2 separate regions of the Homo sapiens genome follow, and region 2 is linked to region 1. Evidence: fine-mapped expression QTL. A gene starts in region 1. The other region holds a variant in brackets. All regions are shown on one strand. Distances are from middle to middle.

Evidence for each region. PIP is the estimated chance that this variant, and not a neighbour inherited with it, causes the effect.
Region 2: its variant is fine-mapped to the expression of MS4A14 in atrial appendage (GTEx, PIP 0.94).

What each region holds. Positions count from the first base shown.
Region 1 is chr11:60,390,192-60,402,663 of GRCh38, forward strand. It overlaps MS4A14 (membrane spanning 4-domains A14), which reads left to right and starts at 6,268. Exons shown (of 5, transcript NM_032597.5): 1 at 6,268-6,525; 2 at 7,661-7,789; 3 at 10,213-10,263. The coding sequence starts at 6,388. It overlaps MS4A7 (membrane spanning 4-domains A7), which reads left to right. Exons shown (of 7, transcript NM_021201.5): 6 at 2,494-2,595; 7 at 3,596-5,757. The coding sequence ends at 3,670.
Region 2 is chr11:59,507,593-59,520,064 of GRCh38, forward strand. It overlaps OR4D9 (olfactory receptor family 4 subfamily D member 9), which reads left to right and starts at 3,947. Exons shown (of 3, transcript NM_001004711.2): 1 at 3,947-4,154; 2 at 7,081-7,174; 3 at 7,291-12,472. The coding sequence starts at 7,321. The coding sequence ends at 8,265. The variant C/T (reference allele first, on the strand shown) is at 5,986.

The sequences.
Region 1 (12,472 bases):
AGAGTGGTGGGAAGGGAGACAACGGATTTGACTTCTAGAAAAAATGTCAACCTCTCTGGGCAGCATTTTCTTGGCACCTTTCTCCCAAACTTGATGATCACTACCTGTTCGTGGTGACAAGCCTTGCTTATTCAATCCTATAAATATAGTATCATGGTGTTAAAACCATAAACCAGTGGCCTTTTAAGAAGAAAGACTTCTTCCTCTATGAATCCTCCTAGTAGGAGCACAGGGAACCCAAGGTAGTATCTCTCATTCCCTTGGATCCATCTATCTCACAAATCTCAGAAAATGTGTGCAAGCTTTTGCACTCCTGTGGGTCTGCTCATGTGACCCAGAGATTGTCAAAAGCAACCCCTTTGGTTCAGGAGCTTGAGGAAGTGGAAGAGCACAGAGACCTGTCTGGAGGAAACCCAGTAGATAGTGTCATCCTGGTGTAGGACAGACATGTGGTAAAGCAATGGGGGTGGGAGAGGCATATTGGGGGTTTAATTTAAAGAAAATGAATTTCATTACCCCAAACTGCTTCCCATTCTGAGACAACTGGAGTCCAAAAGAACTTCCTACAATATGAGAGAAGTTGCAACATAGCAGACTAAGCAGACTCCAAAGGCCTACTCTTTGTTAATTAACACAGCAATTACCTGAACAAAAGTAATGAAATTTTAAAAATTAAAAAATATATAGCCAAAGTTGGAAGAAGAAAGGAAGGGAGGGCAGAAGGAAAAACAAATCTAAGAAGAAAGATGACTTAGGTTCCAGAAGCTAAGAAGGATCCTAAAGCCAAATCATCAAACAAGAGCTGAGGCCAAAATACCAAGGAAGTCTGAATAGGAATATTGGTATTAGAGGCTAGGATCACACAGTTTTAACATCCATGACAAGATTTGGCATTGGACAGGGCCATAAAGCTCATATGGAGTACCCTGCAAAAATGTTGAAAGCTGATACTGAATATTTACTCAATTTGTGAAAATAATATAAGGAAAATTCTGCCCAACATCCCAAGAAGTTTCAAGAAAACCTTCCGTCAGCTCACTAAGCTTTGTGCAAGTGTGCCATCTGAATTCATAATTACATATAAAATAGGGGGACCTCAAATAAAAGCATTAAGTTAAAAACTGTTACGAGATATGTGAAACTTCTAAGGTTCTAGCAGAATCAAATCTAAAACTACTATCTAAGGAGATGTCCGTAAACCCAACTTATAAGATGCCTCCCTATCAAAGAACCCTACCACTACCACCATCTACAAACTGAAGTTATCTAATAACCAAAATATTATGAGAAACATAACAACAGCACAAAAAAATGAGTAGCGGCAGCAAATGGGGAAACATGAAAGTCAGAAGCTCAAGAATTGGAGATAACATAATAATTTGAACAAGGCTATTATGAAAATACATTTTAAATCATTAAAGATGTTTAAAAAGTAATAGAAACCAGGCCAGGTGCAGTGGCTCACAACTGTAATTCCAGCACATTGGGAGGCTGAGGCGGGTGGATCACCCGAGGCCAGGAGTTTGAGACCAGCCTGGCCAACATGGTGAAATGCTGTCTCTACTAAAAATACAAAAATTAGTCAGGGAGGGTGGTACATGCCTGTAATCCTAGCTACTTGGGAGGCTGAGGCAGGGGAATCACTTGAACTCGGGAGGCAGAGGTTGCAGTGAGCTGAGATCACACCATTGCACTCCAGACTGGGTGACAGAATGAGACCCTGTCTAAAAAAAAAAAAAAAAGTAATAGAAACCAAAATGGAAAAAAAAAAAAAGGACAGTAAAGGAAAAAAAAGATATGTGCATTTGAGAAAAAAATGAAATCACATACTTGGAAATGAAAATTGTCTTTGAAATTAAAAACTGAGCAGATCAGTTAAACAGCAGATTCAATATATTCAAGGAAACAAAGAGTGAAATGGAATTTAGATTTGATTAAATCACACAGAACACAACACATTATGTGTGTTTGGAAAAGATGGATGAAAGCCTAAAAGGTATGATGGATGCAGGGAAGTGGAGAGGTTCAGTACATATCTAGTAGGAGTCCCAGTGAGAGATTATAAAAGAGAGAGTATATGCAAAAGTAAATAACTAGAAATTTTTTAGAATTTAATAAAAACATGAGATTTCAGATTGAAGGAATGCATTGAGACCACTGCAGGATACACAGAATCAAATACACACCTAGAAATATCATCATGACAATAAAAACACCATAGTCAAAAAGAAAATAATAAAAGCAACCAGAGATAAGTGGCAGATTACTCTCATCTATCATTAGGTGGGATACCAAAGTTCTGAGATGATGCCGTTGCTGCTTATTTCCCTTCATCTATTAAGAAATCTGAAAAAGAAAGCAGAAAAGAGGATTAAGCAATTTTCCCTGTCTCCTTTTCTCTGCATTGCTGGAGCCTCATCGCCCTGTCTCCTCTTAGCCAGGCACAAGGGCTAGCTTGTCTTGGGTACCAGCCATTCATGTCCTGATTTGCAGGGTGTCCTAGTGGTGATGCTCATCTTCACTGTGCTGGAGCTCTTATTAGCTGCATACAGTTCTGTCTTTTGGTGGAAACAGCTCTACTCCAACAACCCTGGGGTGAGTATGCTGACATGTCGCCTGATACCTGCTGTGTCTCAGGTCCAGGCTACAATAATCCAACCTCAAAAAGTGGCAAAAAGAAGAATCAATTATTGTTCATGAGGTGCATGTGGAAGGCCACTTTTATAATTAAAAAAATGAGTTTAACAGTGAAACCCCATCTCTACTAAAAATATGAAAAACTAGCCAGGTGCAGTGGCACACGCCTGTAGTCCCAGCTAGTTGGGAGGCTGAGGCAGGAGAATTGCTTGAACCCAGGAAGTGGAGGTTGCAGTGAGCTGAGATCACACCACTGCACTGCAGCCTGGGTGACAGAGTGAGACTCAGTCTCAAAAAAAAAAAAGAGTTTGTATAAATGGGCTCCTTCTGGAGGACACTCTGGTCATCTGGGATCAGCTGGTGTCTACTGGGAAGCAGACCAGTTAGAGAATTGCTTAATATGAAGCTAGTTGGTTTTAGAAATCACATAGCCCAACCCCTCATGAAAGAACCACGGCTTGGATAAAATTACATAGAAAATGAATGACACAGACTATTGGGCTGAGAATGAGAACGCGTATCCCCTCACTTTTATCGGGAACACAGCTACCTGCCTCCCGAGAGAGTCTCCCTAGCCAAGTTTCCTTGTTAATGTGATGAGACTTTACTAGAATGTCTCTGTCCTGTTTATGCTTCCCTGTGCTCTTCCTTACATCCCCTTAGCTCTTGATGTTATAATTTTAAAATATTTTCATTTCCCCTAAAGGCTACAACAACAAAAGAAATGTTTATAGAATTTGGATGAATTATGATTTAACTATGATCCTATTTAAAATAGTAAAATAATTAGCAGACTGGAGAATTGCATTATTTTTAATTAATATTGCTGCAATTACATATTATGGCAAAGTTGGAAGAACTAGTACTACACAAAACTTGGGGAAAAGGTATTATGAGTTATCTTTTTTAATCTCCGAAATCAAAGTTTAAAAATTCTAACCAATTATGTATTTTCTAGAGTTCATTTTCCTCGACCCAGTCACAAGATCATATCCAACAGGTCAAAAAGAGTTCTTCACGGTCTTGGATATAAGTAACTCTTGGCCTCAGAGGAAGGAAAAGCAACTCAACACTCATGGTCAAGTGTGATTAGACTTTCCTGAAATCTCTGCCATTTTAGATACTGTGAAACAAACTAAAAAAAAAAAAGCTTTTGTTTTGTATTTGTTTACTATGAGTCGTTATTTAATTTCTCTTGAAAATAATTTCCTCAAAGCCCAAGTCAATAAATGTTATCAGCCAGTCTTCCAAAATGGTCATAAACTTTATAAACTGCTTTGGGTAAACTGAGCAGAAGGTGATACACAGAAGGGAAAATGTGCACTCATGCTAGTGTGAATTTGGTAAGTTGCGTGACTCTGCAGGCTGTTTCTGTATTATTTTCACACTCATATTGCTTAAATATTACATATTAGGGATTGTAAGAAAACTTTAATTAAAAATTAAAGACTATATATAATTAAACTACTCTGCCCTGGACACTCTCTGAGAAACAGATCTACTGGGCCCTTTTTCATGAGCCATTAGGTGGAAGACAGCAAAGAGATCTTCTCAAGTGCTTAGGATTACCTCTCAACACACAGCAAGCATGTCCCTGCCTCCCATGAATCTTACCATGTAAATCCAAATCTCTGCAATCCTGTGGCACCAACCAGTGGTGCTCATTCTATTGTTTAAAAATGGCCTTCTTGGCTGGGCGCGGTGGCTCACTCCTGTAATCCCAGCACTTTGGTAGGCCGAGGTGGACGGATCACCCGAGGTCAGGAGTTTGAGACCAGCCTGGCCAACAAGGTGAAACCCTGTCTCTACTAAAAATACAAAAAATTAGCCAGGCATGGTGGTGCGCACCTGTAGTTCCAGCTACTTGGGAGGCTGAGGCAGAAGAATCACTTGAACCCGGGAAGGGGAGGTTGCAGTGAGCGGAGACTGCACCACTGCATTCCAGCCCGGCCTACAAGAACAAAACTCCATCTCAAAATAAATAAAAAAATAAATAAAAATAAAAATAGACTATATATAGTCTTTGAATTCATTTATTTTAAATAAATGAATAAAATAAAATAAAAAAGAATATTCAGTCGTTGGCACATAAACTATGTTCTCTTCTGTCATTTCAGGGTAGGAGTCAATGAAGACATCTTAGTCTTAACAAGTTACAGATAATCTCTGACTGGCATGTTTTCTGCTTCTAGCTTGGAGCTAAATGCTGCTCATGCTGAAAAGAATAATGTCTATTTCTTTGTTTGGGTATTAGCTCTATTTTGATCTATAGCACAGTTTTGTAATTCAGATCATCACCCCTGCACTTTGTACCACATGGGCGTATTCTTTCTTCCCAGTCATTGCTGCAATTATCTTGTCTGTTCTTTGTGTAATATGTTCTGTGTGAGCCTCTGCATTAAACTCGATTTCTTGGGCAATTATGGAAATTCCAGTGTGGCTGCAGTTTAACTTTGCACTCTCTATGCATATGAGGTTTCCTAAATAAATGAGGAGTAGCATAGTTTAAAATATATATATCTTATAACTTTCTACAACAAAGAATTATTGAGTCCAAATGTCATCAGTGCTCATTTTGAGATACCCTGCTATCGATGGTCGCTACAAACCAGGAAATACTCAAGTTATTATGTGTATACATTGGTTTTAGTTTTATGAAACAATTTACCTTCATGATCTCATAGTTAAAATTGTAATAAATTTAGGAATATAAAGGATCAATATGGGAAGCAAAATTTCTAAAGGCAGTTTCTGTTGTTTTAATTAGTATTTGTGTAGTTCAAACCAGGAAGGATTTGACTATCATTAGATTTTGCTTAACTTTATGAAAGCTAAAATATTCTCTGTTATAAAGGGGCAACTCCATCTGGTCCTATAGCATCTTTACTACTGATTTTTTTTTGTTTAATTTGAAAATGCAAAGAATTGTTAAATGTTCTTAAATGTTCTCACTACAAAAAAAGAAAAAAGATAACTACGTGAGGTGATGGATATGTTAATTAGCTGGATTGTGGTAATCATTTTGGAATGTATATGTATATCAAAACATGTAGTACACCCTAAATATATATAATTTTTATTTGTCAAATATACCTCAATAAAGATGGAAAAAAATCGAAATTCAAAGTTATCTACTGATTTTTATAATACAGAGAAATATGGTTAAACAGTAAGTTAGAAAATTCATCAAGTAAAAGAAACTCCTTTCAAAGGAGGGCAGAAGCGTGGCTGAGTTTAAAAAACATAGATTTTGGAGACAGGTCAAGTTGAGTTTGCCCCTTCCCTGTCCTGTATGTCTTTGGGTGACATAACCTTGCTGTTCCTCAGTTTCAGTATTGTAGAACTGTTAAAAGAATAAATGTTAGTGCATGTCAACACCTTCTACACAGTTCCCAGAACATAAGGAATATTCCATAAGTTTTAGTTCCTTTATAACTCATGAACATATGTGTAAGGACTTGTTTCGTATATACCATCTATTCTTTGTTTACCATATGTTTGTAAGCAAATTGACAAGAGAGTAAGTCTTCTGGATACAGTACTTTTCACCAGGAAGATGGGGGGCTGAGCATGCTCTAGAATTCTAAAACTCTGTGACTCAACTATGATTCTGAGATTCTACTACTGAGTAGAGTCATCACTAAGGGCTCATCTCTGAGGGCTCCATGTGACTCTGGTGGAGAGGTAGATCATGATTTGGGCGGCAATGTTTGCTCACTCTTTCCCTTACTAGAGTTCTGCCATAGAATCATGGAGTCAACATCCCAGGACAGAAGGGCAACTCACGTCATCACTATAAAACCAAACGAAACTGTATTGACTGCATTTCCCTACAGACCTCATAGCTCTCTGCTGGATTTTCTGAAGGGAGAGCCAAGAGTCTTGGGGGTAAGTCCTCTCCAGTCAATAGGTCTTCCAGAAGGGGAGAAAAGAAGTTTATTTATTCATGTATGTCTGCAGAGATATGCAGAGATTATTTTCAGGGAGGGAGTTAATTCTACTTTTCCCCCTTCACCTTACATGAGAAATTAGTACTGATCTTTGAATCCCAGCAGAGGGGGAAGCAAGAAACTAGTATAACTTTTTAAAATATCTCATTGAGGAAGTGACTTCAGGGTGTGGTGGCACCTCCCTTGAAGCTAAGAAACCATAAGTGGAGAGGTTTGACTTCCCCTTCATGCTCTTAAAGGAATTGGGAGTGCTTCAAAACCCATATTCAAAGCTCCACAGTGAACCAAATGATAAGGCATGCAAAACGTTTTTCATCACAAATGCACCCAGGGGAGAGCTGTATGCACAGCCTCCATCCTTTGTACAACAGCAAAAATCATTACTTGGTGTGCCACAGCCCAGAGATGTGGCCTGGGGACAAAATCTAGACTGCCAGAGAAGTTGCGCCCTGAGAACCACTGCTGCTATTCTTTTCCCTGCAGATTCCTACAAGCTGATAGGCCCACTGGGCTATTCTCATCCCTAGTTGGGTCCATGGATGAAGGGGAGGTGAAATGCAAGCTCATCCCAGGTTCTCCACTCTATGTCATCAAACTTTTTAAATTTTTAGACAACTGGGATGAGCCCCAATTCCAAAAGCCTATACTGAGTGCTGGAAAATGTGGGGGTGGGGGCTGTTAGGATAATAATAGGATACTGGTGAGACAGACGAAAAAACAAATGTAAAGGTGAATAGTTTATAGTCCCTGTGCTCAAGAAGCTTATAATCTGGGGGTAGTCAGACATGTACTCAAATCTGTCTGATATAAGATTAATTGGTAACACCAGGGAAGATAGAAAATAATAAAGAATAAAAGTGAAGGATTTGAACCTGAAGGATCCAGGCAAGCAAAGTGGGAAGGAAACACATTGAACTGAGTCTCTTAACAATCTGAGAATGATTGACAAATGAGAGAGGAAGGCATTTGGATGGAGGGAAAGGTGTGCCATGGAGGCACACCCTGAGGGACGTGGGGTAGCCCACAGGGTCTTGGATACTTGTAACCTCATGTACCCATTTCTCTCCTCACAGGCTACCCAGATCCTGCTTGCTCTAATCATTGTGGGCTTTGGAACTATATTTGCACTTAATTACATCGGTTTCTCCCAAAGACTTCCCCTTGTTGTCCTCACAGGATATCCATTCTGGGGAGCACTTATTGTGAGTACTGTCGATTAGAAGCTTTGGAGAAATTGCTATAAAGATAGATTTGAACTGCTTCACGTCCTAGGGTAATGAATTCCATAAATATGGCCCTCCAGGAGACCAAAAAAGGCAGCTCCCTTCACGGCAAAAGAAGCAACTCCATTTGGTCACTGCACTACCATCATCATTGTAATAACTACTCTCAGGTGCTTAAAATTTGTTTCCAAAGCCCTTGTGTGTATAGTAAGACATTTGCTCCTCAATACCAACCTGGGAGACTAGATGCACAAATATCCTACTTATTCCTTTGCAAATAAGGAAACTGAGCTCAAAAGTAGAGAATAACTTAAACATATCTAGCCTAGCTAGCACTCATGGAATCACAGACTCTGAAAGCTTAAAAAGAATTTTAAAATTATTATCACTCATCCTCCTTCTTAGCCCCAGAGACAACTTTATGAGTGGCACTCATCTAGATAATCATATAGCCATAAATATTATTCTTAATACAGTGCTATTTCTATCCAATCCCCACAGCCTGGATTCCTAATTTTGTGCCATAATATTTAAGGACAGACTCATTAGAGCTTCTCCTACTATAACATACACTCCTGAGAAGACAGCAGTGTTACTGTCTGTTTTAGTTGTTATATTCTGAGAACCTAGAATCATGCTTGAGGCATAGTGTGCATGAACGAACGAATGAATCAATCAATCAATCAATCAACAAATAGGTGAAATAATTAATAAATTAGGCCACTATCTCTGACTATTAAAAATCCACAGTCTCTTTTGATAAACAGAAATACTCCATGCCTTTTCTATAATGTGCATTTCAGAAACAACCAGCAGTGTTTTCATTTTCCCAATATAAATAATGTAATATTCAATATGATTTTCAAACTATACATGCCATACTGTAGAAAATCAAACAGACCAACCCCTCACTTTCTCATTTCACAACAGAATTGTCCCAGTGTGACTTTGTGTACTCTGCATGTGTGAATTAAAATGAGATTCTGGCATGCTGCTTTTGAAAACTCTACTTTTCACTTAAAAGATATTTACTGAGCACATACCGCGTCTTCAATGGCATCCTAGGTGCTGAGACTGAGAATACTGGAAAACAGCTCCTCTCTGAGAGAAGTGGTGAATTGTTCTTAGATTTAGACAGTTTGTCATCTAACTGGGAGACTAGACATGAAAAAGTCAAAAGTAACCCCAAATATTTGTTCCTACACTTGTGCTAAGTGCTCTAAGAGGAGAGTTCCAGGTGCGATGTGAGGGTTTAATAGAGGACTCACCTGACCATGGAGGTCAGGCAAGTGCTTTCTGCGTAGCTGCTCACTAGGCGAAGTGGAAGGAAAGCATCCCTGGCAAAGATAAAGCATGAGCCAAGGGCTTGATGTGGGAAAGAGTAACCAAAAGAAGACCAATGAATCTATCGTGATGGCATAAAATGAGGCTATAAAGGTAGGGTGTAACCAGGTCGTGCCAACCCCTATAGTCATGTTAAGAAAATGGAACTTCAATGTGAAAGCATGGGAAAGCCACTGAACGTTTTTAAAGAGGATAGTGACACTTGAAGACTTGTTGAAGTATCATTGTGTTTTTAGAGTGAGAAATTAATTCAATTATAACAGTAAACCTAGGAGAATCCAATGAGAGGAGGCTACAAACACACAGATGAGGAAAGAGTTTCCCGAACTAGCTTGGTGGCAATGGAGCTAGAGATGGAGAGCCTTGAGAGTGACTCGGAGGTAGAAGTGACAGGACTTGGCAATCCAATGTGGGGAGTGAAGCGGAGGGAGGTATCAAAGGTAACTTTCTGATCTCTGCAAGTCAGCTGCAGATCCTTGGACTCTAAGACCCAGATGTCCCCAAGGTCCAAGGCCAGTTCCCACAGAGAAGGTTCCCATCCCCAGAACATTAAAAAAGTAAGGGACTCCACATGGAGTGACAGAGTTCTCATTTTCCTGAGGTGGTACTAGGCTCTACGATCATGGGAAATGAGGGACTCTGATAACTACACTAGATATCAGTCCCCATATCAGCCTTTAGAGGGGTCTTCCTTGAGAAAGTCTCCCTTCACCTGCTCAGAACAGGCACAGCTCCTCCTCTTCTCTTCAAGGCCCAGAGCTCAGGAATCTCTTTTTGGAGCCCCAGCCGGATCAAACATCTGGTCCTCTGGATCTTAGAGGAGCCTGCCTGTCCCAGTTGGCCCTGGCAGAGAGCGCTTGTTCAGTGCTGAGCAAATCCAGCACAAAGTTTCTTCCTACCCTACCTACGCCTACCTTCCCTACTCCCTGATGCTCAGGTGGAAAAACGGGATGGTCTTGGAGATTCACAAACAGATATTTTGCAAATCCAAGGGAAATTATACTGCAAGGTGGTCAAACACATCACCTGTTAACTTTTGTCTCTTGTCTTCTTAACAGTTTATTCTTACAGGATACCTCACAGTAACCGATAAGAAATCAAAACTTCTGGTAAGCCACTTAAACTACATAAAATTTAAAATCTTCTATTTGTTTTATATCATCTTTATGTATGAAGCCTTTAGTAATAAAGTTACCTTTCAGGAAAATCTGTATGCATCAAAGTTGCAGTTCAGATCATTCCTATTTGCCAGTGCCACTGTTTGCCTGACAGACATTCTTACACTTGTTCCCATTTCCCTGGTCAAGTAAACTAAAAGAGTTGTTTATTGGAAACCATTCTGCATCCCTGTAATTCATTGTTTGTAATTAGGGGTAATTCCCTGCCCTGCACCCCCCAGGACCCAGAAATATTGGACAACATCTGAAGACATTTTTGGTCATTACAACTGGTGTTATTGGCAACAAGTGAGTAGAGGCCAGGGACATTTCTAAGCATCTAAAATGCACAAGGCAGCCTCCCCCCAACACAAAAATTATCCAACAAAAAATGTTTATAGTACCAAGGTTGAGAAACCTTGCTCTAACCAAAACCAATCCTAAGCTCTCACTAATTCTTCCTCCCAATCCTAGCCCTATCTCCAATACCAACCGAGGCTTTTCTTTAGATCCTGCCCAAGGTCTGGAAGAAAGAGTTTGGGCATCAATGCTGGATTGTTCTAGGATTGAACCAAGGCTATCACTCACTTCTGTGTTAACCTGAAGGGAAAAGTGCCTACTTCTAAGGGTTATTTTGAGAGTTTAATGAGACATTACTGATAAAAGGCAAGATGATGCTTAAATGTTCATACTCCTTTCTAACCACTCTGATCTTGTTTAAGGTCCTGGGGATGTGGGCCTCTCTGAAAGTCAGTTGAACTCTGTTCTTATGGTCCTCTGCCAGTTTCCTCTAGGGATAGTTACAAGGCATAGAGACATTCTGAGGGGAGGGCAGATAAATGTTTCCATCCCTGCTTATGGAAATACATGCAGACAATGCAGATGAAGCCCCAAATGCTGTTCTCCCTGTATTGACTTCCTTCCAGAGCTGAGAAATAAACTATGGGTAAGGAAAACCTACTCCTGACTCACTGAGAGCTATGCAGATGGAGGTGTGCAGGAATGATGGAGGCAGGATGCTGAACCAGGCATCAGAAGACCTGGCTTTTCATCACAGCCCTTCCACAAACCGTGAAAGTGATTGCTCACAGTCACTTACTTCCTTAATTCCATTTATCTGTAAAATGTGGATAACAACAAGTGTCCTTCCTACAGCACAAAAGTATAATGAGAATCAGAAGAGACTAGGCTGGGCATGTTCTTTGTAAAGCCCAATACACATGAGGGATTGATTATCTAGAGATCTTAGTCTATAAAATGTCCTATGGGAGCCAAAATAGAGCCTTGAGAAAACAAGGGGACTAAAGACCAAGAGAGAGATGGCCTATCTATATGTTCCTGTGCATTTTCTGCCAAAGTGCCTATTTGCAATAAAAACCTGGGATTGAGGTAAACATTAAGTCACAAGTACACTTCTGAGGTTTGCCACACCAAGCCACAAACTTCCAGAAAGGACTGGCTGTGTAAAGGCATCATTGTATTTTCCACCACGGTAGTCATAACACAATCAATAAAGGTACAGCAAATACCTGATGAATGGAAATGTGAAGCTTTTCTTTGTTTTTCCTTTAAAAGAGTGATATCAGTCCTGGGAGTGGGTAAGAAGGAAGAAATCAGATGACCCCCTTCCTGTAAAGGAACTCGGATATACCTACCCCACCCACCCACACCCCCCTCCAAAAAAATAAGAATGAATAAAGGGAATTGGGTGGGGCAGTGTGAAATATTTTTATTGCAACAATGAGTTCAAGAAAAAACACCTTTAAACTCCAGTCCAAATAGGTTAACATCTTTAAATGTTAACGATTCTGTTGATTATTGCTTGAATTCTCCCAGGGAATGACTGTAAACCACATGATTGCAGGATGTCACCTCTTTTGTTCATTTTTGTTTCTCCAGGGCCTAATGCAGTACTCACATGTATCTGGTGCACATTAAATATTTATGAAATAAATGAATAAATGGATACTACCCTAAAAGTTAGGTGACACATTCACATTTTTAAAGGCAGAAATTGAGATTCCAGGAGATTAGGTTACTTGCCTAAGGTCCTAGTGAAACTTGGACTTGAAATGAGGTTTCATTTCCAAGCAAAGATATTTGCTAACACATTGTACTGCTTCCAGATTATGAAAGATGGTGGTGATAAAATGAGATAAAA
Region 2 (12,472 bases), 880 kb before region 1:
CGCCACACTGACTTCCACAATGGTTGAACTAGTTTACAGTCCCACCAACAGTGTAAAAGTGTTCCTATTTCTCCACTTCCTCTCCAGCACCTGTTGTTTCCTGACTTTTTAATGATCGCCATTCTAACTGGTGTGAGATGGTATCTCATTGTGGTTTTGATTTGCATTTCTCTGATGGCCAGTGATGATGAGCATTTTTTCATGTGTTTTTTGGCTGCATAAATGTCTTCTTTTGAGAAGTGTCTGTTCATTTCCTTTGCCCACTTTTTGATGGGGTTGTTTGTTTTTTTCTTGTAAATTTGTTTGAGTTCACTGCAGATTCTGGATATTAGCCCTTTGTCAGATGAGTAGGTTGCGAAAATTTTCTCCCATTTTGTAGGTTGCCTGTTCACTCTGATGGTAGTTTCTTTTGCTGTGCAGAAGCTCTTTAGTTTAATTAGATCCCATTTGTCAATTTTGGCTTTTGTTGCCATTGCTTTTGGTGTTCTAGACATGAAGTCCTTGCCCATGCCTATGTCCTGAATGGTAATGCCTAGGTTTTCTTCTAGGGTTTTTATGGTTTTAGGTCTAACGTTTAAGTCTTTAATCCATCTTGAATTGATTTTTGTATAAGGTGTAAGGAAGGGATCCAGTTTCAGCTTTCTACATATGGCTAGCCAGTTTTCCCAGCACCTTTTATTAAATAGGGAATGCTTTCTATTATCAAAACATGACAATAGGTTTGCTTGTTATTCATAAGGCTTAAAGAGTCGCCCTGGGCAGGCACAGTGGCTCATGTCAGTAATCCCAGCACTTTGGGAGGCCGAGGAGGGCAGATCACCTGAGGTCAGGAGTTCAAGACCAGCCTGCCCAACATAGTGAAACCCCATCTCTACTAAAAACACAGACACAAAAAGTAGCCGGGCATCGTGGTGGGCACCTGTAATCCCAGCTACTCAGGAGGCTGAGGCAGGAGAATCATTTGAACCTGGGAGGCAGAGGTTGCAGTGAGGCAAGATTGTGCCATTGCACTCCAGCCTAGGCGACAGAGCGAGACTCTGTCTCACGAAAAAAAAAAAAAAAAAGTCACCCTGAAGCTGATGAGAGAAACAGCACAGGAGAATTTAATATCAAAAGAAGATAATGGGTCAAAAATAAACCCTGGCTTATAGAGTAGCCAAGAGGACAGGCCCCATGGGATGGAACAGAGAGCCCAAGGAGAGTAAATTAGCCAAAGGATAATGAATGTTGAAGGATAGTGAATGTTGAAGACAAACTTTACTTAAGTCCCTCATTGGATCTGGCCTGGCCCTGTAAGCATTCATGAACTAACTGGCTCAAATGTTTGCCACTTCCTGTCACCTGATCAACAAAACCTAACTTCTTACAATATTAACTTACTTCTGCAAGCAAACAGATTCTAATAAAAAGTCACACTTGCCAGATCACTATTCATAGGGTCCTGCTACCTTTGCCCAAGTAGCTTTGGTCTCAAGAGTCCCTAGGCTTTTCTTTATGAAATTGCTTATGAAAAATACACACTACAAGCCACTTAATAGCCCATTTCACGCAAATCCGTCCTTTGCCCTTTTCTTTCTTTCCTAACTCTTGTGACTCACTCAGATCAAGTTTTTATCTCTATATCAGAATCAGATGACTCCACAGATCTATAGGGCCTGATTAAGAAACACAATCCCAAGAGATCAAGAACCCAGGAACTCTTGGCATATCATTGTCCCTGTTGACTTCCTCATGACCGTGTCTAAACATGCAACATAACCTGATTCAATAACTCAGGACAGAAAAAGCAATTGCATCTGATCACACAAACACTTATTGGCAGTGACATAAAATCACAAGTTGAGCAGCATTTTTCCCACTTACATTAGTTTTGACTAGTTTTTGTTTGTTTTGTTTTGTTGTTTGTTTTTTGAGATGGAGTCTCGTTTTGTCACCTAGGCTGGAGTGCAGTGGCATGATCTCAGCTCACTGCAGGCTTCGCCTCCCGGTTTCCAACGATTCTCCTGTCTCAGCCTCCTAGGTAGCTGGGATTACAGGCACACACCACCATACCAGCTAATTTTTGTATTTTTAGTAGAGATGGGGTTTCACCATGTTGGCCAGGCTGGCATCAAACTCCTGACCTCAGGTGATCTGCCCACCTCAGCCTCCCAAAATGTTAGGATTACAGGCGTGAGCCACCGTGCCCAGCCTAGTTTTTACTTTTTTTTTTTTTTTTTTTGAGATGGAGTCTTGCTCTGTCACCCAGGCTGGAGTGCTGTGGCGCGATCTTGGCTCACTGCAACCTCTGCCTCCCAGGTTCCAGTAATTCTCCTGCCTCAGCCTCCCAAGCAGCTGTCATCAATAAATAAAAATTGTATATATTTACAGTGAACAGTACAATGTGATGTTTTATTATACATATACATTGTGAAATGATTGTTGTATGCTTTCATTATTTTTTAAGCTCTGCTGCTAAGAACTGTAGAAAAGTCAACTGACTCTGGGCACACACGTGGATTTCAAACTGCTCTTTTATATATGTGCTCCCCAAATTAAATGTTTTCATAGTGAATATCTCTGGGTACGCATGAAAAAATAACATAAAATAATTATGCAGTAACTGAGTTGATGAATATCAAGAGCTGTACCTAGATGTAAAGTGAGCTATACATTTCAGAGATGTAGGTTAAAATAACTGTGGGGGCTGACGGGGCGCAGTGGCTCATGCCTATAATCTCAGCACTTTGGGAAGCCGAAGCAGGCGGATCACTTGAGGCCAGGAGTTCAAGACCAGCCTGGCCAACATAGTGAAATCTCATCTGTACTAAAAATACAAAAATTAACCAGGCACAGTGGCTCATGCCTGTAATCCCAGCTACTTGGGAGGGTGAGACAGGAGGATCACTTGAAGCCGGGAGGCAGAGGTTGCAGTGAGTTGGGATCATGCCACAGTACCACTCCAGCCCGGACAACAGAGCAAGACACTGTTTAAAGAAAAAAAAATGTCCTGGGACAATGTACATGTTGCTTTAAACAGAAAATGTGGCCAGGCGCCGTGGCTCATGCTTGTAATCCCAGCACTTTGGGAGGCAAAGGCAGTTGCATCACCTGAGGTCAGGAGTTTGAGAACAGCCTGACCAACATAGTGAAGCCCCACTTCTATTAAAAATACAAAATTGGCCAGGCATGGTGGCAGGCTCCTGTAATCCCAGCCACTTGGGAGGCTGAGGCAGGGGAATGGCTTGAACCCGGGAGGCAGCGGTTGCAGTGAGCCAAGATCGCACCATTGAACTCCAGCCTGGGCAACAAGAGCAAAACTTCATCTCAAAAAATAAATAAATGAATAAAATAGAAAATGCACGTATAAATCCATACAGTCTCTGAGAGCTGCTCTGACAGTAGCCACAGAGCTTTGAATTTTTCACTGTTACTCTTTTATTTATTTAAGTTTCATTTCCTAGCTGATTGCAGGCAAAGTGACTTTAGTCAAGAGGAAGACTGCACAGTCATTGGTGTGGTTTAACAAAACACTCTCTTCCTGAGCCAAAGAGGAAAATACACTGTCTCATGTGTTTCCTCTAGAGGAAAGGGTATGTCCTGAGTGCACGGGTGCCTCTGCATGTATGTATGAGAGAGAACAGAGAAAAAATGAGAAAGAGGGAGAGAGAACAAAAGAGAGAGTACAAGACAGAGAGTACTTGGTGACATTTTAATGACTCCCAAAGGAACTCCTGAGTTGTATTGTAGCGTATTATATTGGCCACTCAGCTTCCACATTCATACCTAACAATATTCCCTTTGCTAATTCCTATATTGGGCTGTGGCTGGAGACTAATACAGGTGGCCAAAATGTAGTAAAGTAGAAAAGAGTCAGAATACTGTAATTACCTGAGGTTGCTTTTTCCCATCTGAGGAAAGAAGATAATAAAATCACTCACTTTGAGGTAGGCTTTACATTAAACAGAGAATTTCCCCAGTACCTACTTCTTCTAAAATGCAGCTGAGGCATCATAAGAGGATCAATTTCCCACTTAAAGATTAAACCAGCAGTTAGTATTAGTGCCTATGAACTTCTGAAACTGAAAAGCTGTTTGTGCTGAATTTTGAGAAATGCTGCAAATGTGTAGAATGTTCCTATGGAAGTCAAGACTCTTAAGAAGCAAAGAAAAGAGGTAGTTTTTCACTATTAGAAAGAGGGAAAGTGTGGCTTGCAAAATATAGGAAGATGGTCAGTTGGCTTGGCTGTGTTTTACTTGTTGGGATATTGAGGTTCAAAATTTATTAAAGGTAGTTGAGAAGGTGCTGACGTCACCAGCTCTCAGGAGGATGACTGCCTTGGAAAAACAGCTTTTAAAGGCAGTAATTCCTGAGTTTAGTAGATGCAGTTTTGCCTCTTGGCTGGGAATGAAATTTTGGAAGATTTGAGTAAGATGTTTTAATGACAAGATTATCTGTGCCTTCATGTACCACTGAATAAGAATAATGCTTCTAGTAAAAGTTTTAGGGATTCAATCAAGAATAAGGGATTTTCAAAATTGGAAAATAGAAAACCGTGATATGTGTGGCATCCTAGAAAGTCAACTTAATGTAGAGAATGAGGAAGAATTTGCTCAATGGGATGCTGGGGTATGGGGGGGAATCCTCAGTTTGCAGGCTCTGTCCAAGATACTTGATAAGCTTGTTTCCAAAGAAGGGTCCCCTTTGGGATGATTTTTTTTCTTTTTTCTTTTTTTTTTTTTTTTGAGACAGAGTCTCACTTTGTCACCCAGGCTGGAGCCTGTAGTCCCAGCTACTCGAGAGGCTGAGGCAGGAGAATGGCGTGAACTTGGGAGGCGGAGCTTGCAGTGAGCCGAGATTGTGCCACTGCACTCCAGCCTGGGCGACACAGCGAGACTCCATCTCAAAAAAAAAAAAAAAAAGAACATCTCAAATCCATACGTGAGTAAAAAATAAAACGGTAACTCTTGAGTTGGTCACAGTGGCCCATGCCTGTAATCTCAGCACTTTGGGAGGTCCAGGCAGGTGGTTCACTTGAGCCCAGGAGTTTGAGACCAGCCTGAGCAACATGGTGAAACTCAGTCTTTTTGTAAAAATACAAAAAAAAAAAAAACAGCCAGGCATGATGGTACAACCTGTAGTCCCAGCTACTGGGGAGGCTGAGGTGGGAGGATCAATTGAGCCCAGGAAGCGGAGGTTGCAGTGAGCCACGACTGCACCACTGCACTCCAGCCTAGGCAATGGGAGTGAGATCCTGTCTCAAAAAAACAACAACACAACAAAATGTTTACTCTCAGATGATAGCTGGTGATGACTATAACCACGTAACTATAAAAGTAACTTATAAAAGTGAGTGGTCCATTAAATTTTGCTTTAAATGTAATTCATTCTTTAAACATGAGATTAAAGTGTTATAAATGATAAATGTTATGTTTGTTAGTTAAAACTTTATACTGAAGTATGATATGCTAACATACAGAAAAACGCACATACATGTACAGCTCAATGAATTTTTTTTTTTTGAGATGGAGTCTCGCTCTGTCACCAGGCTGGAGTGCAGTGGCATGATCTCAGCTCATGACAACCTCCGTCTCCTGTGTTCAAGTGATTCTCCTGCCTCAGCCTCCCAAGTAGCTGGGACTACAGGCGTGTGCCACCACGCCCAGCTAATTTTTGTATTTTTAGTAGAGACGGGGTTTTAACATGTTGGCCAGGCCTCCACTCACCTCAGCCTCCCAAAGTGCTGGGATTACAGGCGGGAGTCACCATGCCCGGCCAACTCAATGAATGTTTTTACACCAGCAGAATATGCCTACTGGTGTAAACCAGCACCCAGAAGCCTCCCTTAGGCTCCCTTCAGTTTTGTACATATGAATAAAATGGAAGAGTGCATACTCTTTGGTCCCTGGATTATTCAGCACAACATTATGTTTGTGGGATTCTCTTATATTATTACGTATAGTGTAAATCATTCTCATTGCTGTATAGTATTGTGTGAACGTAACA[C/T]AGTTTATTTATCTTTTCTACTGTTGATGGATTTCTGAGTCATTTTCCAGTTTGAAGAAATTATAATCAGTGCTACTGGTGAGGTGTGGTGGCTCATGCTTGTAATCAAACTTAAGAGGCCAAAGTAGGAAGATCACCCGAGGCCAGGAGTTTGAGACCAGCCTGGGTAACATAGGGAGACCCCAACTCTATAAAAAAATTAAAAATTATTCCAGCATAAAAAAATAAATAAAAAGAAAAAAATTATTCAGGTGTGGTGACAGGCACCTGTAAGTCCCAACAACTAGGGAGGCTGAAGTGGGAGGATCGCTTGAGCTCAGGAGTTTGAGGCTACAGTGAGCTATAAGCTCACCACTGCACTCCAGCCTGGGCGACAGAGTGAGACCCTGTCTCAAAAAATATAAAAAATAACAGTGCTGCTATGAATATTCTAGGACATGTCTTTTGATGAACATATGTACATATTTCCTAGAAGTAGAAATATGTCCTTAAGAGATATATAGGTAATGATATACAGATAGATCCTTTAAAAGAGATATATCATCATACATGTAGATATATACATATCCTCCTATGTATAAAACTATATTTATATACTGTCTTAGCAGAGATAATCAAATAGCAAAGTGGTTATACCAATTTTACACACCCACTAGCAGTGTATTAGAGTTCCAACTGTTCCACATCTTCACCACCACTTTTTCATCTTTTCAGTTTCTATCTTTTTCAATTTAGCCAATCTGGCATGTATATTGTGGCTTATTGCTATAACTAATGAAGTTGAATTGGCATTTGGATATGCCTTTTGTGAAGTATTGGTTTCAATCTTTCGCCATTTTGAGGTTGGGTCATCCAGCTTTTTTACTGATTTGTAGAGGCTCTTTATATATTCTGAACATGAGTCATTTCTCAGATAAATGTATTGTAAATATCTTGCTCCATTTGCAGGTTATCTTTGAATTCTCATAATGATGCTTTTATGAACAGAAATCCTAATATATTCAGATTTCTTCTTATTATTTATTATTTTAAGTGTCAGATTTTATAGTGAAAGTACAATTGAATAGATTCACGGACTTGCAACCTCTGTTTCAGCAGCAGCAGTGAGAGAACTTTGTCTCCTGGGATGACTGAATCAAAAACCTGGGTAATCTTTCATCCAGTGGTGGCATACTGACTTGCAGACACAGTGAGTGCATAGGGAAAAGAGCTTCCTCCTAATTCTGAGCCAAATCTTAAGTGAAAAGACAACACTAGATTTTAGGACCTATCAATATTATTTAACTGCACTATTATTTCTTCCAGAGATGAACCTGATAAAGGATCTGTGATTCAATGGATCAGAGAAATTACACCAGAGTGAAAGAATTTACCTTCCTGGGAATTACTCAGTCCCGAGAACTGAGCCAGGTCTTATTTACCTTCCTGTTTTTGGTGTACATGACAACTCTAATGGGAAACTTCCTCATCATGGTTACAGTTACCTGTGAATCTCACCTTCATACGCCCATGTACTTCCTGCTCCGCAACCTGTCTATTCTTGACATCTGCTTTTCCTCCATCACAGCTCCTAAGGTCCTGATAGATCTTCTATCAGAGACAAAAACCATCTCCTTCAGTGGCTGTGTCACTCAAATGTTCTTCTTCCACCTTCTGGGGGGAGCAGACGTTTTTTCTCTCTCTGTGATGGCGTTTGACCGCTATATAGCCATCTCCAAGCCCCTGCACTATATGACCATCATGAGTAGGGGGCGATGCACAGGCCTCATCGTGGCTTCCTGGGTGGGGGGCTTTGTCCACTCCATAGCGCAGATTTCTCTATTGCTCCCACTCCCTTTCTGTGGACCCAATGTTCTTGACACTTTCTACTGCGATGTCCCCCAGGTCCTCAAACTTGCCTGCACTGACACCTTCACTCTGGAGCTCCTGATGATTTCAAATAATGGGTTAGTCAGTTGGTTTGTATTCTTCTTTCTCCTCATATCTTACACGGTCATCTTGATGATGCTGAGGTCTCACACTGGGGAAGGCAGGAGGAAAGCCATCTCCACCTGCACCTCCCACATCACCGTGGTGACCCTGCATTTCGTGCCCTGCATCTATGTCTATGCCCGGCCCTTCACTGCCCTCCCCACAGACACTGCCATCTCTGTCACCTTCACTGTCATCTCCCCTTTGCTCAATCCTATAATTTACACGCTGAGGAATCAGGAAATGAAGTTGGCCATGAGGAAACTGAAGAGACGGCTAGGACAATCAGAAAGGATTTTAATTCAATAAGGGTAAGATAGTACCCATATTTAAAGATAGACATTAAATTTCACTTTCTCAAAATGGGAAAGGAGCTTGTTCATGCCCAAAACAAAGAGATACCTATGGCCACCATCGAGTCCTAAAAGAAGTTATTCCATCATATATGTTGGGGACCACGTGGATGATACTGCTCTAAGACAAAATCCACTCAAGTCTTTCCCTACTCACTTTCAATTATTCATTCCACAAATTTTTATAGAGCATACACTATATGTCTGAAAGTACTGGGATTCAGATTGCTGCAAAAAGATTAAATGTAGTCACCTTCCTGGAGGCATAACCCAAAATACTTATTAAAAAATATAAACAGGCCAGGCGTGGTGGCTCACACCTGTAATCCCAGCACTTTGGGAGGCCAAGGCAGGCAGATGACCTGAGGTCGGGAGTTCAAGACCAGCCTGACCAACATGGAGAAACTCAGTCTCTACTAAAAATACAAAGAAAAATAGGCCAGGCATGGTGGCGCATGCCTGTAATCCCAGCTACTCGGAAGGCTGAGGCAGGAGAATCACTTGAACCCGGGAGGCAGAGGTTGCAGTAAGCTGAGATCACACCATCACACTCCAGCCTGGGCAACAAGAGCGAAACTCCATCTCAAAAAAATAAAAAAAATAAAAAATAAATAAACAAAGTGCTAGGGGAACTGTAGCCACAATATTACTTGAGAGTTTCCAAAGACATTTAACAGCCAGTAGACATTTTCAAGGGGAAAAAGATCAGAAAAGAACAATCCAAGCAAGGAAAACAACATGTACTTGTCCACATGAGGTGTCTTATGCCTGTAATCTTAGCACTTTGGGAGGCTGAGGTGGAGGGATCACTTGAGCCCAAGAGTTCAAGACCAGCCTGGGCAACTTAGTGAAACCTCATCTCTACAAAAAATCATGATAATAGGCCGGGCGCGGTGGCTTATGCCTGTAATCCCAGCACTTTGGGAGGCCAAGGCGGGTGGATCACAAGGTCAGGAGATCGAGACCATCCCGGCTAACATGGTGAAAGCCCATCTCTACTAAAAATACAAAAACAAAATTAGCCAGGCTTGGTGGTGGGTGCCTGTAGTCCCAGCTACTGGGGAGGCTGAGGCGGGAGAATGGCATGAACCCGGGAAGCAGAGCTTGCAGTGAGCCGAGATCACACCACTGTACTCCAGCCTGGGCAACAGAGCAAGACTCTGTCCAAAAATAATAATAATAATTAATAAATAAATAAAAATTAACCAGACATGATGATGCACACCTGTAGTCCCAGCTACTTGAGAGACTGAGGCAGGAGAGGTTGAGGCTGCAGTGAGCCATGTTCACTTCACTGCACTCCAGCCTGAGCAACAGATCAAGACACTTGTCAAAAAAAAAAAAGAAAAGAAAAGACAAAAAGAAACCAGCATGCGCAAAGAAAGAAAATGAGGTGAGATTGTGCCACATTTGTGTAACAGTGAACTCAGTGCAGCCATGGCGTAATACACTCTTGGGGTGAATACTGGTACTGGACCTTTAAAAGAAAAGTTGGGAAGAATAACTCCATTTATGACCACCTGAACAATGCAAGCCCATGATTTCTGTTGAGGAGAGAGGATCCCCAATTCACTTCAAGGACATAATTTCCTCCTAGGAGAAGGAAATAATGCTGTTAGTGAGAGTGTTCATAAAGAAGAATCACTGTTGCCGGGCGCAGTGGCTCACGCCTGTAATCCCAGCACTTTGGGAGGCTGAGGCGGGTGGATCACGAGGTTAGGAGATCGAGGCCAGCTTGACCAACATGGTGAAACCCCATTTCTACTAAAAATACAAAAATTAAGCCGGGTGTGGTGGTAAGCGCCTGTAATCCCAGCTACTCAGGAGGCTAAGGCAGGAGAATTGCTTGAACCTGGGAGGCGGAGGTTGCAGTGAGCCAAGATTGTGCCACTGCACTCCAGCCTGGGCGACAGAGCGAGACTCCAACTCAAAAAAAAAAAAGGAGAAGAATCACTGTTGAGGCTGTGGACAGCTCCTTTGATTTTGAGAAAAAAATGAGCAAAGGCAGATGCCAAGCTCTCAAATGGGAAGCAACTGACTCCCCCTTATATAGCAGGATTAGCCAGATCCAAATTTCCTGTTGTTTCTATACACAGTGATCTCACCACTCCTTTACCTGTGCCACTCAATCTATTAGAAGGTAAAGAAAGGGTATAAAAAGCATGATAGTTTAATTAGTGAACCTGAGAATTTGCCAGTCTCTGTTGTGAAAGAGACAGGGATAGTGCTAGGAGAAGATTTATCTGACAATCCAGCTGATACTCTGCTAAGATCTATTGACTTCACCATACTGTGTTCCCCACTATGATAAAGCTCAAGCCATAGCAGCTGGCACACATTTATCAATCAGAGTAGGCCAACCACTGCAACAAAAATGTCCACGGTCTAAGTAGTTAGCCACAACAAAAGTTTACTTCTTGCTCATGTCACAGGCCAATGCTGGTCTGCAGAAAGAGGGCACAGTGCCACACTGTCATTCAGAAATGCAGGCTTCTCCCGTCTTGGGCTCCACATTCTCTAGATCCTCAGAATCCTGTCCATGATCCAGCAGATGGAGAAAGGGAGAGAGAATTAAGAATAAGTGATTCTCCTGCCTCAGCCTCTTGAGTAGCTGGGACTACAGACATGCACCACTATATCTGGCTAATTTTGTATATTTTTATTTTCATAGAGATGAGGTCTCACTAAGTTGCCCAGGCTGGTTGAAATTCTTGGACTCAAATGATCCCTCCACTTCAGCCTCCCAAAATGCTAGAATTACAGGCATGAGACACCTCACCTGAACATGCTCATGCTGTCTTATGCTCCACAGTCTCTAGATCCTCATAATCCTGTTCATGCATCCAGCAGATAGAGAAAGGGAGAGAAATTAAGAATTATGGGGAAGGGAGGGGTGTGTCTTTATGGGACAGTCCTGGAAGTGGTGTGAACTACTTATGACCACTTTCATTGGCCAGCCCTTGGTCACATAGCCTCACCTGACAGCAAGGGAGCCTGGAGAATGAAATCAAACTCTGCTCTCAGAAAGAAGAAAATATGAAGAATGAACTCTAGTGATCTCTTCCACATGTAAGATTCACTGCTAAGAAATCACAGTTGGGTTACATTACAAAGATTAAGACTTTGTCTATAAAAGGATTCTCTTAATACATAAAAATGTTTGCTACAGGGCTGGCTGCGGTGGCTCATGCCTGTAATCTCAGCACCTTGGGAGGCCAGGGAGGGTGGATTGCTTGAGCTCAGGAGTTTCAGAACAGCCTGGGCAACATGGCAAAACCCCATCTCTACAAAAAATATAAAAATTAGCAGAGCATGGTGGCACACGCCTGTAGTCCTAGCTACTCAGGAGACTGAGCTGGGAGGATCACTTGAGCCTGGGGAAGTCAAGGGTGCAGCGAGCCATGAATGCCCCACCGTACTCCCACCTGGGCAAAAGAGTGAGACCCTGTCTCAAAAAAAAAAAAAGAAAAAGTTTGCTGGAAAGGCAACTAGACCCTTAGAACACACAGAGAGCCAAACCGAAATGAAGGAGATGGGGGAAAATTTTTCTTAACTTAAAGGAAGAGGGAAATGATCAAGGTAAACCCTGGGATTAGGATGACAGTAGACTAGAAGGGCAGGGTTCCATGAGATAGAACATTAGGGTAGAGTGCCCCAAGAAGATAGGCCAAGAAGACAATCCTCATAGAAAGCAACTCTCACTTATTCCCAAACTTTTCATGGGCTTGTTGTAAACAAGTTCGATTAATGCAGAAGCTCCTTTAGCAATGAATGTTCTCCAAAACTACCATTTGACGCAGCAATCCCATTGCTGGGTATATACCCAAAAGAAAATAAATTATTCTACCAAAAAGACACATGCACCTGTATGTTCACAGTAGCAAAGACAAGGAATCAGCCTAGGTGCCCATCAATGGTGGACTAGATGAAGAAAATGTGATACATTATACACCATGGGGTACTATGCAGACATTTTTAAAAATGAATTCATGTGCTTTACAGTAACATGGATGCAGCTGGAGGCCGTGATCCTAAGCAAATTAATGCAGGAACAAAAAATCGAATACCACATGTTCTCACTTATGGGTGAGAGCTAACCATCGATTTACACATGGACACAAAGATGGGAACAAAAGACACTGAGGCCTACTTGAGGGGAGGAG